Linked DNA regions of Homo sapiens: regions 1 and 3 are each linked to region 2. The links come from fine-mapping of genetic effects on gene expression. A gene starts in region 2. Each other region holds a variant in brackets. All regions are shown on one strand. Distances are between the middles of the regions.

Region 1 (5,228 bases), 69 kb after region 2:
GACAATACAAAATAATATGTATAAAATGTATACTCCTGGATTTAATCATTCTTATTAATTCCATTATAATTTTGGAGTTGTATTAGCACAGGTATATATCCTGTCATGTAAAATCTATGACTTTATTTGGACAAACTTTTCCTTTTTCAGGTATATAAAGTTTATTTAAAATTTTAAAAAATTTTTTAGAAACAGGATCTCTCTCTGTCACCCGGGTTGGAGCACAGTGGCACAATCATAGCTCACTGTAGCCTCAAACTCCTGGACTCAAGTCATCCTCCCATCTCAGCCTCCCAAGTAGCTAGGACTGTAGGCGTGCACCAGGACTCCTGGCTCTTTCTTTTTATTTTTTTGTAGAGGCGGGGACTTGCAGTGTTGCCCAGGCTGGTCTTAAACTCCTGGGCTCAAGCATTTCTCCTGTCTTGGCCTCCCAAAGTGCTGGGATTACAGGCGTGAAACACTGTGCCCAGCCTTAGTGTATAGTTTATATACACTTCTAAGATTTCAGATAACTTTTATTTCCTTAGAGTATTGTCAGTATATGGTTTTCCTATTTTTCTAGTTCCTATTTTTTATGTACACATTTAATGTTTTCTAAGTAAATAACTGGTTTTAGAATTATAGATGTTGTTGTATTAGTCCACAGATTTGAGCTCTTCTAGGTTTTGCTGTTTAATTTATATGAAAGTAGTTTAGTGGTTTAAACCTGTGTGCTGTATCAAGTAGGTGTTCCAGTAGATGCAGTGATGTATAATTACTGTCTGCCTATTGAGAAGTGGTACTGAATTGCATCTGGTCTTTGAGGTTTTACAAATCATCTTATTGTGAGATGCATGATTCGTTTTTCTCTTGGTTCTGTAGTACAATATTTTATTGTACATACAAGGTTTTATTTCGTGAATAAACGTTTGTATTATAATACAAGTGCTGTATAATTATGAACGTTTGCTAAGCGGTTAAAACTTAAGTTTTAAAAATATTTAAGTGCCTCGTAATAATTCATACCAATATAATGAGGTTTATTTTTCGCATGTTATATTTATACATAAAGCCCTATTTAATGTAAACAGGTAATCCCTTGACACTCTCATCTATCCTCAAGATTGTTGTTGTTATCATTTGTGTGTAAATAAAAATGTGTCATAAAAAAGAATAAGCCTTCGTTTAGGAACTGTGGAGTGATGTCTTAAGAAACAGTAGTGGAAGGAATTTGTGGCTGCTTTAGATTCTTAGACCCTGTCTGAATTGGTTTAGGAGTAGTATATTACTCCAGGAATGTATTTCTAGATTTCAAGAAATTTGTAAACTTGGGCACAGGAGAACTAGTTATCTCACATGGGTCCTTGCTTAAGGAGGTCGAGTCACTTAGTGTTACTGACCTCCTTCCTTCACGTCAGGTACTTTGCTAGGTGCCTTATGTATTCTTGCACTTTGGAAAGTGCAGAGGTGTTAGGTGGGGATAGAATGAGGGATGTGAACTTTGCTTTGCCATTAAACCAACTCATTACTTTAAACTTCGGCATTTGGCAGGCTTGCCATCTATGACTGGGCTGGATTTGGGGTGATTTTGAGATGCTTTTCTTCTCTTCCTGGTGAAATAGGTATATTTAAGTCTTAAATGCCTGCAACTACTTACAAAGAATATTTCGTAGCTAGTCTAAGGAAGAGAAAAAATATAGTAAGCAATCATTGATAATTCGTATGAATTGACTTAAAATAATTATATATAATAAGGATTTGGAATGAAAAACTATAGGAAGACACTTTGATTAACATATTGGAAAGCCAGATATTAAAGTATGTGAGAATAATCTAGATGATTATGTTTCTAGTTAACTGTAGTTGAGTTCTTTGATGCTATTGCTTGTCATTTGAATAAGAGAAAGTTTTATTTACAGCCGACAAAAAGCAGCAGTATGTAATTGATATTCATTTGTTGTACTAAAGAAATATGATTTGGTAAAAACAATCAGAAAATAGTATTTTTAACGCTAGTAGTAAAATTTATTTTTTTAATGCATAAAAAGCCTCGTTTATTTTTATAGCAATTTGATGACACATCTGCTGGCTTTATTCAGGTGAAAAAGAAAATGTTGGTTCTTGGTGTTTGGTGAAATTGTTAAATTATTTTCTAAATTGTTCAACTTTTAACAAATGACATTTGATACTAACACTGGAAAGCAATTTCAGCGAATTAAATAGACCCCTCTGTAAACCACGGGAACATTAAGATGACACACTGTTCATTCAAGATGGTTTTAATTGGTACAATTATTGTAATTTTCTTGCAATTATGTGTTGAGTTGAAAGCTTTTGTCTGGATCATTTGAGAGTTTTTTTTTTTTTTAACATACATTTAGTAAGAAAGGGAGTAAAATAAAAACTAAAAATTTTTTGTCTAGTTTTTATTGCAGCATTTTAGACAACCATTGAAATATTTTAATCTAAAACTTTATTTCTGGCATTTAAAGCAGAATGATAGTGGTTTTTAAAAAAATGAATTTAAGTAGTTTTCATGAAGATAGTGCTTTAAATTTCTGTTTTGACACTGCTCAGTCAATCTTTTACCCAGGCCATGATATGGTCAGAATAAGTTTGTGATAAGGATAACAACATTCTTTATTTTGGTACTTTATTTTGATGTTTAAAGAACAGTTGAATAAGTTCTAAGGGTGCTTCAGAATAGTAGCCATTTTCCATTTCATTGAAGTAGCAATTTGCTGTACAGACAATATGGACATCTAATTTATGACTTTAATAGACCTGTTATTTTTAAATTATTCAAGTAATGTTATTTCTATACATTATTTAGGACATTCTCATAATAAAACATCATATTTTATGATAACCTCTCCTGATATTCACCCAAAGCTTTCATAAGCTTCATTTTATCACATGTAGTCATCTCATACCTCTTGTAGCTCTCACTAACCTGCTTGCTCTCTCCATCATTTTCTGGGTGATGATCAGCTCTCCTTCCCTCTCTTCCCCGCCATCATTTGGCCTGGATTATTGCACAAGCTTGTTTCTTTTGCATGTGGACTTAAGTTATGAATGTGGATAGCATGAAAAATTTAACAT[T/C]AGTTAGTTTAGAGGAAGTTGTTGCTTCACCTCCTTTGTAGTACAAAGTCCATCCTTTGTACTGATAATTTTTCTCTTTAGTTTTTGAGATACTAGCAATATTTATTCCAAAAACTGTTTAATGCATGCTATTTTGGTGTTTTTTATATATAGCTTAGAATCTTCATGAAATTCTTTGTTTTTGATATATGACTTATTTGTAGGTATTGGTGTTGTCATCATTCAAAATTTATTAAATTACTATCTTTTATATAATTATTGTTTCCATCTTTATTCTCAAAACACACTTGCTTTGACCGCAGAGGTTCAATATTTTATCCATATCTTTATCTTTTTAAAGATAAAGCCTGATCTAGTTATTTGTAAAATTACAAGATAATTCCCCATATAGGAGAGGAAACTAAGCAGGTTTTTACTGAAATAAAGATTGTGTCATCTATAATAGAAATCATGTTTTATCTGGACAGAAATAAATGACATTTGTATATTTGCCAAGTTCAGTGTGAAGAGTGAGCCTGCAAACCTTGTATAAATATAGCCATAATCAGATGTAATGTTGACCATTCAATGTGCATTTCTGGCTTTGCATTATTTTTATCCATGTCTTTGTGAAAATTGGACAATTGAGATTTCTAAAGATAAAGGTGAAGGGCATAATTTTTTAGCTTATTTTGATGTATCTTTAAATCATGCCTACTTTTGTTGTGTGGAGAAAACAATGAAATGCATTAAACTGACGTGTTTGGCTTTTTTTTAGTTTACCTATTTGTGTATTTTGCTACTTATTTATTTTGTTGTTGTTACTAGATTTCCAGCAACATCCAAAGATGTGAGAGAAATTAAGGGGAGAAAGCTTAAAATTCATTCATTTATTCAGAAAACAGTTATTGGACACCTATTATGGACCAGGCACAGTTCTGAGAGCTTGGGTGTATCCATGAACAAAACCAGCAAAGATCCCTGCCCCGAGGAGCTTGCAGTCTGTCAGAGAGTGATGGGTAATAAACAACATATATAATACATAATTAGCATGTTAAAGGCAGCAAGTGTGGTGGAAAGAATAAAAGGTAGAAGAGAGTTAAGGAGATGAAGAGTAGTGCAGGTTCTGCATTAAGTAAGGGGATCAGGATTGTCCTCATGGAGAAGGGAAGAGTTGAGGAAGGGTTGAAGGAGGCAAGACAGTTTTCCAGGCAGGTATCTGAGAAAGCATTTCCAGGCAGAGGGAACAGTTCCGGGCCAGAGAGCACCTGGAATCAATGTTGAAGGAACAGCAACAAGGGAGCTGATGTGGTGAGATGGGGTGCAGTGAAGCAAGTGAGTAGGAGGTCAGGTCGGGTCACCAGTGGGGTTCATGGACCCCTTTTGGAGGACCATGGTAAGGACTTTGGCTTTTACCCTGAGTAAGATGGGGATTCGTTGCAGGGTCTTGAAAAATGTGTGGCCATTACCCTGATGCTTCAGGGCCTATTTGCTGTATCAGTGCAGCTTGGCCTGAGTTAGGGAAGCCTGTTGATTCAAGGGAGCTTGTTTTGAGACTCTCACGGTGGGAAGGGAATAGGAATGAACCTGGGTGGAAAAATTAAGGTAAATGAAAAGTTCAGAAAGTAATTGGCTATCCCACAGTAAAGATGAAATGATTAATAGAGTCGGGCATGGTGGAGTACGCCTGTAATCCCAGCTACTCGGGAGGCTGAGGTAGGAGGATCACTTGAGCCTGGGAGTTGGAGGCTGCAGCGTGCCATGACTGTGCCTGTGAATAGCTACCACACTCCAGCCTGGGTGACTAGTGAAACCTTGTCTTTTAAAGATAATAAAAGTTGGGTTATAGAAATAGCACATTGTGGCATTTTCTATGTGAGCTAGGAAGTAAATAACCTCACCTACAGTCCTGTTGCAGGGTATTGAAAGAAAATTAGTTATTCTAAACATCTGCAAGAATTTATAAGACTAATTTCCCTTTGTGTCTCCCCTGTCGCAATACTTTCTTGTTTCTTAGGATCGTTTTATTCTTTATTTTTTAATGATGGATTTATAGCCAACTTTTTGTATCATTTAAAAAACTGCCTTCCTTCCTGTTTCTTGCCATGGTCTGGCTCTCTGATATACAAACCCCTGGTTGAGAGTGAATGAAAGGTGATTTTTGTGGC
Region 2 (5,228 bases):
CAGTGAGAGGATAAGAGGAGGATGGAGGGGATTGAGGGAAACAGCTGGAGGCTGAGGAAAGATGGGGTTGGGGGGTGGTGGGAAGGGTAGTGGATGCTGGGGGAGGCAGCCTTCTATTTCCATAGGACAAATTTGATACTCTTCTAATCCCTTCAGTGGCCTTCTATTTCCCTAGAACAAATTCCCAAATGGTACTTAACACTCAAGGCCCTTCAGAGGCTGACCCCTGCTCCATCTACTGCCCCCTCCCATGCTGCCACCCCAGCCCCAAGGCTGGCAAATATTGACAGTTCCTGGAACTTTGGGCCACCCTCCTTCTCATCTCTATTCTTTTCCAAAGTGTTGTTCCCCGACCTGGACATTCTTCCTAGCCCCATCCAACTGATGTGATGGACAAACTATACTTCAGATACAGCTGGAGGTGCGGGGGGGGGGGGTCCCTTCTTTTGTGAACCTTCCTAGTGGACCCCAAGCAGAGTTGGTAACTCCATCCTCTGTGCTTACCTCCTTACTGCACTGTGCCTAGGACATGGTCAGGACTCAGAAAGGCTGTGCTAAATAACGCACATTTAACCTGTTTCCTTGTCTTCTCCCCTACTCTAAGGTTGGCTTCATCCTTATATCCTACTGATATGGTTTGGCTCTGTGACCCCACCCAAATCTCATCTCGAATTGTATTCCCCATAATCCCCACGTGTCAAGGGAGGGACTTGGTCGGGGGTGATTGGATCACGTCAGCGGTTTCCCCCGTGCTGTTCTCGTGATAGTGAGTGAATTCTCACGAGATCTGTTGGATGTAAAAGGGGCTTTTGACCCTTTTGCTGGGCACCTCTCTTCCTGCAGCCATGTGACGAAGGACGTGTTTGCTTCCCTTTCCGCCATGATTTTAAGTTTCCTGAGGCTTCTCCAGCCATGCAGAACTGTGAGTCAATTAAACCTCTTTTCTTTATAAATTACCCTGTCTCAGGTGGTTCTTTATAGCAGTGTGAAAACGGGCTAATACACCTACCATACTTCTAACCCCCAACGCCTGACCCACCCTGCCCTGTTTACAACAGTGGCTGGCCTTAGCAAGTCATTATCGAAGAAATCACACCATTTAGGACTCCACTGTACACGTTGGGGTGTTCGCTCCTTGTTTCATGAGGGGCACACCAACTTCCGTTTTTGTTTGTTTGTTTGTTTGTTTGGAGATAGGATCTTGCCCTGTTGCCCTGGCTGAAGTGCAGTGGTGTGATCTCAGCTCACTGCAGCCTCGAACTCCTGGGCTCAAGTGATCCTCTCACCTCTGTCTCCTAAGTGGCTGGGACTACAGGTGTGCAACACCACGCCTGGCTAAGTTTTGTATTTTTGTATTTTTTTTTTTTTTTTTTTTTTTTGTAGAGAAGAGGTCTCTCCATGTTGCCCAGGCTGGTTTCAAACTCCTGAGCTCAAGTGATCCTCCGTCTTGGCCTCCCAAAATGCTGGGATTACAGGAGTGAGCCATTGTCCCCACCCCGCACCAACTTCTGATGAAGTCAGGCTCCTTATTGGCTTTTTCCTGAGTTGCCAGGTTGACACATTGGTGGGTGCTTTTCGATGGTTCGCAACCTACGCACGTCGTAATCATCCTTGGACCTTTTCAAAAATCAAGATTGACGCTTGTTGGCAGCAAGGCCTAGGAATGTGGAGGCTGAAGGAGGTGAGGGGAGGTGCTGGGAGACCTGGAAGGAGTGTGAACTACAGGCCCCGCGAAAGGCAGAGGTCTCGCTCCTGGATCCGGAAGAAGGCTGCTGAGCGGGCTTTCATTTCTTATGTATGTGCAGTTTCTTCTGAAGATATAATTGATGTTTATTTCTCTGAATAAGCTTGATTATAATGGAAAATAGGGATAATAAATTAACTGTAATAAGAGTGACATTGACACTGAAAAACCTTGCCTGGGGCGCTTGTCCTGGGTGTCCCCGCCCCGCGGCCCCTCCAGCCCCGCCTGCTCTACGCCCCGCCCCGCCCCTCCCCTCCACGCCCAGGGGGCGTGGCAACCCGGAGTCCCTCCCCTACCCAGGGCACGTGATCTGTCAGTTCGCGGAGAGGGAAGAATATGGCCGCCGGGTGTGGTGAGGGCGACGCGCTTGCAGTCGCCGTCTCTTGCTTCCCCGTCCTCTGACATCGCCTGCAGCCGAGCGGGCCCGTTCCGCCGGAGCTGAGGACCAGGTTGGGAGACCGTCAGTGTGGAGGCCGGTCCGCGAAGCTTTGCCGCGGGATTGGGGAGGAGTCGGGGGCGAGGCCGGGCTCGGGGAGTCGGGCGGGGAGGTGGGACAGCCGAGGAGTGCGCGGAAGGGGCGAGCTCGGACCGGGGGTCCCGGGGAGGGCATGGCGCGGGCCCCGGACGCTCGGGCCCCGGCTTTCGGGGCGAGTCCGCGTTTCCTGGAGCGCCGGGAAGGTCTCCGACCTTGGAGTCTCTGGTGGTCTGTCTCCTGAGGGGCCCCTCGGGTGGGTTGGGGTGAAGGGTGTTGGTAAAACCGTTTTTTTTCTTTTGCCAAGCAGCCTCTGGCACATCCACCACCTTGAGAGCCCCCTTAGCTGGTACCGCTAGTCTTTCTAGGTTCCTCCTCCTAGGCTTCCACGGGCCGGGAGGTGTTGTTTTCTCCCTTGCTTTTATCGTGGGCTCCATTGCTCCATTGTCCTGTGCAGGCTTTTAAACGCCTGGCAAAATAGTGCAAGCCATTGATTTCCACGCCTCCAAGATTTATTTATAGGGAAATAATTTCTTCATCACTTTGTAATGTTGGAATTTTTATTCTTTCAAGTTGACAGGTTTAAACCGATGAAAAATTTTTTTATGAATAACTATGCAGCCATCTCTGCTCCCTATGGGCGCTTGTTAAAAATGTAGATTTCTTAGCGTTTTAGAGATTCCCATTCCTTCGGCCTGAGGTGTGGCTCGGGAATCACCCCTTCAGGTTCGTTCCTGTCCACATTTTGACAACACTGAGGACCAGACATCTACACCTTTTTAAACCACCGTGGGGTATTGAGTGCAGAGCCCAGGTTGGGAAATGCCGTGGCCAGGTGTGTTCTTTGTTCTCTTCTAGCTTTACTAGCATGGACTACTTTCATCAGAATCATTTTGGGGTGCTTGTTAAAATGTCAGTTTCTGGGCACCACCCCAGATCTAGGGAATGGGATTCTCCCGGGGAGGAGCTCAAGGGATATGTGTATTTGACAAGCTTCCCAAATAATTTTGGTGCACACAAGTTTGAGAATCCTTGTTCTACACCCTTTGTGTGAATAATTTCCAGATCATTCACACACAGTGTGAACGGTATCTTTTTCCAAGTATTGGGTGGGTTTCTCCAACCTAGTTCTTTTGGGACACTTCAAATTCAGCCTGGCCAAAGCCCCATTCGCCCAGCTGGGGTGGTGGAAGGGAGGAGGCATAACTTAAGTAGAGAAAAGTCTGCTCTTTCTCCTGCTTTTTTTTTTTTGGTTAAGGGCAGCTCCATTCTTCAGTCACCTATGCTGGGCATCTGGTCATCTTCCACCTGTTTTCTTTTCCAACCAGTCACATAGTTTTATCTTTATATCCAGAATATCTCTTCTGGATATTTTGGTAGTTCAGAAAGTTCAAATGTCAGGGATTTTATATTTTTCAAGTTAATATCCCTCATTTCTTCTCTATTCCCACTGCCTCTCTTGTGTACTGTCTGGTGATTCCTTGACTGGTATCTAGGGCCCTGATTCTTTGTATTTTTCCAGTCTGGGTCACATACACTGCCAGATTAATTTTTATAGGATCATGTATGAATGTGCCATCCCCTTCTTCCTGCTTTTGCTCAAGAACGGTCAGTTTCTCCATTTTATGTGCTACTGTATTTGTCAGGGCTGTTTAGAAGACAGTAGAAACTTAAACCTTTTACTTCAAGGAAAAGGAGATAATAGGATTGAATGAGAGTCAGAAAGAAGTCAGGATCCCAGGTACCTCCATTTTCTACATCTCCCTGGGGCAACTTTTTTTTTTTTTTTTTTTTTTTGAGACAGGGTCTGGCTCTGTTGCCCAGGCTGGAGTGCAGGTGGTGTGATCTTGGCTCACTGCAGCCCTGACCTCCTCTTAGGGGCCACATTTGTTCTCTTACTTAGGAGGAGTCTCTTTTCTGTTCATATCTGTTGTATTCTCTCTTTGCTGATTGGCTGTCTCAGAACTGTATCATTTTATGTGTGACCCATATTGATTGGCCCAGTCTCTGGTTTCTAATTCCCAGTTCTAGAGAGAGAAGTCTGATTGGCCCAGCTTATCTTTTTCAACAGTTTCATGCCACAGATCATATGCCCATCCCTGGGAATGGCTGATGCTAGAGAACATGGCTGTTGAGGGTAGCAGGGGCTGTGGGTGGGCAAAGTCCTTCAGAAGAGGTATCTTTAGCATACCTATGCAGTTATTTAATTTGATGGTTATCTATTAAGTTTCTACCTGTTCTAGATCTGTAATAGGTTCTGGGGATGTAAGAATGAAGGAGAGAGACAGCCCTTAATAAATTAGTTCAAGGCTGGGCATGCAGGCTCACACCTGTAATCTCAGTGCTTTGGGAGGCTAAGGCAGGAGGATCACTTCAGGCTAGGAGTTCAAGAGCAGCCTCGGCAATATAGCAAGTCCTGTCTCTACAAAAATTAAAAATGTAAACAATGATCTGGGTGTGTTGGCATGCACCTGTAGTCCCAGCTATTCAGGGAGGGTGAGGCAGGAGGATCGCTTGAGTCCAGGAGTTTGAGTCTGCAGTGAGCTATGAATGTGCCACTGCACTCCATCCTGGGCAATAGAGCCAGACCCTGTCTCAATAAAAATAAATAACTAAATACATACATACATACATACATATACATACATAAGTTAGTTTATAGGTGACCCGCGAGGGGGGTTTTGAAGGGTGTGTTTTGGCTTGTTAAGAATGTTAAAGTTGGGTCAGGCATTACAGGTGGTTGGATCAGCTTGGGCATGTCCATTCATTCTACCGATACTGGGTTCTGTGGTGTACCAGGCACTTCTCTTAAGTGCTGGAGATTCAGCAGTAAACAAAACAGATAGTCTTTATTCTCATTGAGCTACATTTGTTTGGCTAGGGGAAGCAGACCAAAAACAAAGTATGTGGTATGTGGAGTGATGCTAGGTGTTATAAAGAAGACCTTTAAAGTAGGGCTGTGGAAGGGGGATATAGTAGAGGGGGAGAGGGCTGTTTTATACACGTATAAAT
Region 3 (5,228 bases), 84 kb after region 2:
AAGTATATATGCTCTGGGGGCTTGTAATGAAGGAACATAAGTTGGTCTCCAGGATGCTCTCTGAGGAGGGGGAAATTGCACCGAGCACAAAGGATGGGTAGGAATTAACAGGGTGAAGATGGAAGGGTGTAGCCAGCTCCTGAGGTATCCAGGGCTTTTGCCTTTTCACAGATGGCAGTGGGTGTATAAATGGACTCCATTTTTTCTTTGTTTCTGACTTTTTGGCTGCAATGCCAAGTGGCTGTTTTCTGTCTGTGTGTTCTGTCTGTCTCCCAGAATCTCCAAAGTGTTCTGTTCATGGATGGTATTTAATAAATGGACATTCACTGGTAGAAAGTATTTGAGAGTCTATTAGAAGTTAAATTTGTTTCAAGGCAATAAAATTCTAAGGCATTTAAGAGTTTTCTCTGTTTAAATTTTTAAACAAATTGTGTCTTATTTTTTAACATCCTACTAAATAATGACATTATTAGGCAGCTACTTTTAGATAAAATGTGATAAATAATACTTTCTTCATAAATTCTGCTCTAAGAATCTGTTTATATTTTGATTTAAAATAGAAATCTTTTATGTAATTTAAAACCTCATTTTGAATGGAAGTGATATGAATAGTTTATGCAATTTCTGCCAAGGAATTAATATGGACTTTGTATAAACCACTGTCATTTATAATCAAAATGCTTTTAACTTACATTGATGTTGGCATTAACAAGTATTGCTAGATTGGTAGCATAGAAGGAAATTGCATTTAGACTTACTAGGAGCTCATTGATGCCTGAGGTTTTATAATGCTTTCTTTGGGCCATTTAACTGCTGGCAACTTTAATTCACATGATTCATAATGCTGGAAATTCAAATTCACTCTTAACTGAAAAGTGAAGTTACTTAAATTCTTTAAATGCTAACCTTTGGAAAAATATCTGAAAAATAAAGGCACATATGATTTTGATGGCCCACTGCCAAAAGATTATCATTTACATAAATATCTCTTTCAGCAGAAGAGTTTAATGTATTGAGCTCAGAAGGTTAGAATAGAGACTTCAATCTGGAAGCCAGCAGTAGCCTGTTGGCTTGTGAACAGCAGCATTGTTCATCATACTGAGAACACTGTTGCATTCAGGCAGAAGCAGAGCTGGCATTAAAATGCAGTTAATTTGTTTCATGTGACTTGTCAGCTGTGTGTTTTTATCTAAATCTTTCTAGCTTCTCTTTTTAGTATTTTGTGTTCAACTCCTGCAATAGATGAACTACCTATTTAACTGTTTAAGCTCTGATTTTATCACCACTTGCAACCATTCTCCAGGTTTTCCATTTCATTTTAAATATATTTAATAATCAGTTTGAACACGATTTTAATGTATTAAAAGTAACCCCATCTCAGAGGGCTTTTCTGTCTTGTGCATGTGTCTGTGTCTGTAAAACGGACTTTCTGAAGTTAATTAAGAGAAAATTGCTACCCTTATTTTCTCCCCAGCACCCTATTCTCTTCTTGTTTGCTAATTGTGTTCTCTGGGTTTTTCCCTTAGATGACTTTCAATATTTGGCTACTAGCCAAGTATTGGGTCTGAGCAGTAAAGTGCTAGTCCCAAAGAAATGATATAACTGTTACTAACATTAGAATAAGGTTCCCATTTCACTTTTTGAAGGGCGTGAAAATCTTACTGCTCCTCTGCAACTGTGCTCACTTAGTATAATCTAACAGTTAATATTCTTGTTTAATTGGAAGGATATATCCAGTGATTTTTAAACAACTTTTGGAGGTGTAATTGACATACAATAAACTGCCATATTTAAATTGACCAATCTCACGAGTTTGATAAATGTATATACCCACAAAGTCATTACCACAATCAAGAGAGTAAATGTTTCCATCAGTTCTAAAATTTTCCACGTCTTCCTTTGATACCCTCCCTTGTCTCCCTCCTGCCTCACATTCCTAACTTCACAGCAAACCTTGCTCTGCATTGATACTTTAGATTGGTTTGCATTTTCTAGTTTTATACAAATGAAAACATATTGCTATACACTCTTTATTGGTTGGATTAATTTATTGAGAGATTCATCCATGTTCTTTGTATCAGTAGTTCATTTTTTTTTTGGCTGAGTAGTATTCCGTTGTGTGGATATACCACTATTTATTTATCCTTCCATCTGTTAGTGGACATTTGATTTGTTTCTAGTTTTCTCATCTACCTCTTGTCTTTTAACTTCTCTTTCTTTTTCTTTCCTTTATCCCTCGGTGATGCGTTCTTGCTTACTGCCTTAGATCAGGAATTGTCAACATTTGACCATTTTTGACCTACAAAAACTACAGTTTCATACAGTAGTGTTTAATAAGTGTTTTTAATTGAATATTACTTATTTTTACATTCAAGAGTCTCTGCATGATACAGAATTGTTTACATATTGCTTGAACTCAGTTATACAAAACATTCTGCATAATAAAAGACTAAGTGACATATTATATTAGGAGGTATTGTGTCTGATTGGTTAAAGTATGTTTTTTCCTGTCTGTTTTTCTATCTTACGTATATACATATATAGTAAGCATATATTACTTTTACAATAGGAAACAAAACCCTTTTTAAAAAAGGAAAAACTTAGCTTTTTTTTAATCTGTGTAATTTATTTATAAGTTCTTGATTTCTTGTTTTCTTTGCAAAGGAGAAACTGTGGTATTCTATTTAAAACATGGGTTTCAGAACCAGTCAGATTTGCTTTCGTAGTTGTGTGACTTTGGGCCATCTGTTTAATTTGTCTGAGGCCACTGTCCTCATCTGTAAAGCAATAACTCAATGAATCTTCATTGAGGGGTGACCCTTAGCCAGCTTAGGTGACCCCGAGCATATGACACACCTGTGCATGTGCGTCTTTCCTTCTGTTTTCCCACCCAAGTCCTGCCATGGCCAAAGGCAGTAGAATTCTGGCCGTACTCATTGTTACCTTTTTTTGTAACCATACTACTTTTTTGAGTTTCTTTCTCTTTTATTAAAAAAAAAAATTTTTAGACTGGATGAGGTGGCTCATGCCTGTAATCCCAATAGGGAGGCCAAGGTGAATGGAATGCTTGAGCCCAGGTGTTCAAGAGCCTCCTGGGCAACATGGCGAAATCTCGTCTGTATAGAAAAATACAAAAATTAGCCAGGCATGGTGGCATGAGCCTGTAGTCTTAGCTACCCTGGAGGCTGAGGTGGGAGGAAAGCTTGAGTTGGGAGGCAGAGGTTGCAATGAGCCAAGACTGCACCACTGCACTCCAGCCTGGGTGGCAGAACAAGATTCTGTCTCAAAAAAAA[C/T]CCTAAAAATTAAAAATAGATTTTTTGGCTGGGCATGATGGCTCACACCTGTAATCCCAGCACTTTGGGAGACTGAGGTGGGTGGATCAACTTAGATCAGGAGTTCGAGACCAGCCTGGCCAACATGGTGAAACCCCGTCTCTACTAATAATACAAAAATTAGCTGGGCATGGTAGTGCACACCTGTAACCTCAGCCACTAGGTAGGCTGAGGCAGGAGAATCGCTTGAACCTGGAGGCAGAGGTTGCAGTGAGCCGATGTGTAATTAGACCAAATCCATCAGACCAAGATGTGTAATTGTTGTATAAGTAACTTCAGGTGACATGCAGAATTTACCTTTCTAATAGTGACATTAATAACCTTTTTCATTGATTTCTTATTTGAAGAATATCAAAGAATATTCCAACAACTAAGGATGTTGAGCCACTTCTTGAAATTGATGGAGATATAAGAAATTTTGAAGTGTTTTTGTCTTCAAGGACCCCAGTTCTTGTGGCTCGAGATGTAAAAGTCTTTTTGCCATGCACTGTAAACCTAGATCCCAAACTACGGGAAATTATTGCAGGTGGGTATTAGTAGTAAATTTAATTTTTCATCTAAAGTTCTAAGAATTTTTCATGTTTCTAACTTATTTGTGTACATTTCTCCTGCTCTATGAAAAACCAAGAGGTATTGAACTAAGCACTACACAGAAAAATTCATGAAATTAAAGATTAGGAGTCTTGGCATCCTTTTGAGAATGTTAAGAAAAACAAAAACAAAAAAAAAAAAAAAGAAAATCCTGTTAGTATTTGTGGATCTCACTTTATTATGATCCCTGTCCCCACCCCTCCCGCCCCCACCCAAGTCCTTCCTTTGGAACTTTGGAATTGGATTTCTTTTAACATACAGTCATGACTTCATGATATCCATTCATTGTAATTTGCTTGTCACCAGTCTTTGGTTCTTAACAGGGATCTCTATCCAGAGAAGTAAGAAAATCTTTATATTACTTTTCAGATATTAACTTAAATCTGGGGACTAGAGCTTCAGGGTAGTGACATTAAGGCTTTGGAATAAATGAAGTTCTGGAGGTACCACTCTGTGCACGTGCACACACATAAAACCTTCATTGAAACAGTCTTTTGTATGACATGGCTCTGCTGACCTGCCTTTGAGTTTTCCAGGAACTGTGAGGAGATCGCCTTAAACTACTTCTGTATTCTATTTTCTAGGTACCTGTTACAAGGCTGATGTCAAAGGGTATTACATGGCTGTGGAATTTGTTGTTGTTCAGAGGTGGATGAGTCTCATAATTTGCAAACCCACAGTCTTTGCTAACATTATATGTGTTAATACCCAACAAATATGAGTTATTAATACTTGATAACGTTATGAATAAAAGTAATTGTTAGAATATCTTAAATCCTTTAAGAGTTAGAGAAGAGTCAATTGTTCCAATAACTGAAGAGAAGAATCCAGATATTGGTGACTTCGAATGGTGAAAATGCTTTTTTGCAAAGTAGCTGGGCATTTCTCACTAAAAGGCCTGTGAGTTTTCAAGATTTTCTGTCTTCTTTTTTAATCTAGTTGGAATCCGTGGCAAGAGTGATAAAGTCATGTTTCTGCCTAGTAACTAAAGAAGAATGTGATAATTGGACTGATTCCTAATGTCCTGTTTTCTCTTGCCTTCTGGGGTCTGATTGAATCTTTCAGATGTTCGTGCTGCCAGAGAGCAGATCAGTATTGGAGGACTGGCGTACCCCCCGCTCCCTCTACATGAGGGTCCTCCTAGGGCGCCATCAGGGTACAGCCAGCCCCCATCCGTGTGCTCTTCCACGTCCTTCAATGGGCCCTTCGCAGGTGGAGTGGTGTCACCACAGCCTCACAGCAGCTATTACAGCGGCATGACGGGCCCTCAGCATCCCTTCTACAACAGGGTAAGGAAGTTGGAGG

Alleles and levels. Positions count from the first base shown, and alleles are read on the strand shown. Sizes are in standard deviations (SD) of each study's normalised expression. Not every link is listed here.
In carriers of allele T in region 1, the expression in pancreas of the gene that starts at base 2,060 in region 2 tends to be lower than with C alone (large effect, 1.4 SD a copy in GTEx).

The links. PIP is the estimated chance that this variant, and not a neighbour inherited with it, causes the effect. A credible set is the group of variants that fine-mapping cannot tell apart.
Region 1: its variant is the best candidate, but not a certain one, in a credible set for the expression of KIDINS220 in pancreas (GTEx, PIP 0.64).
Region 3: its variant is the best candidate, but not a certain one, in a credible set for the expression of KIDINS220 in whole blood (TOPMed, PIP 0.65).

What each region holds. Positions count from the first base shown.
Region 1 is chr2:8,765,366-8,770,593 of GRCh38, reverse strand. The region is part of intron 22 of KIDINS220 (kinase D interacting substrate 220); the gene reads left to right. Among named protein-coding and RNA genes, the nearest start is that of KIDINS220, 70 kb to the left of the region's middle. The variant T/C (reference allele first, on the strand shown) is at 3,082.
Region 2 is chr2:8,834,445-8,839,672 of GRCh38, reverse strand. It overlaps KIDINS220 (kinase D interacting substrate 220), which reads left to right and starts at 2,060. Exons shown (of 30, transcript NM_020738.4): 1 at 2,060-2,193. RefSeq lists silencers at 1,884-1,933, 1,944-2,003.
Region 3 is chr2:8,750,096-8,755,323 of GRCh38, reverse strand. It overlaps KIDINS220 (kinase D interacting substrate 220), which reads left to right. Exons shown (of 30, transcript NM_020738.4): 23 at 3,680-3,858; 24 at 4,989-5,212. Among named protein-coding and RNA genes, the nearest start is that of ID2, 71 kb to the right of the region's middle. The variant C/T (reference allele first, on the strand shown) is at 3,294.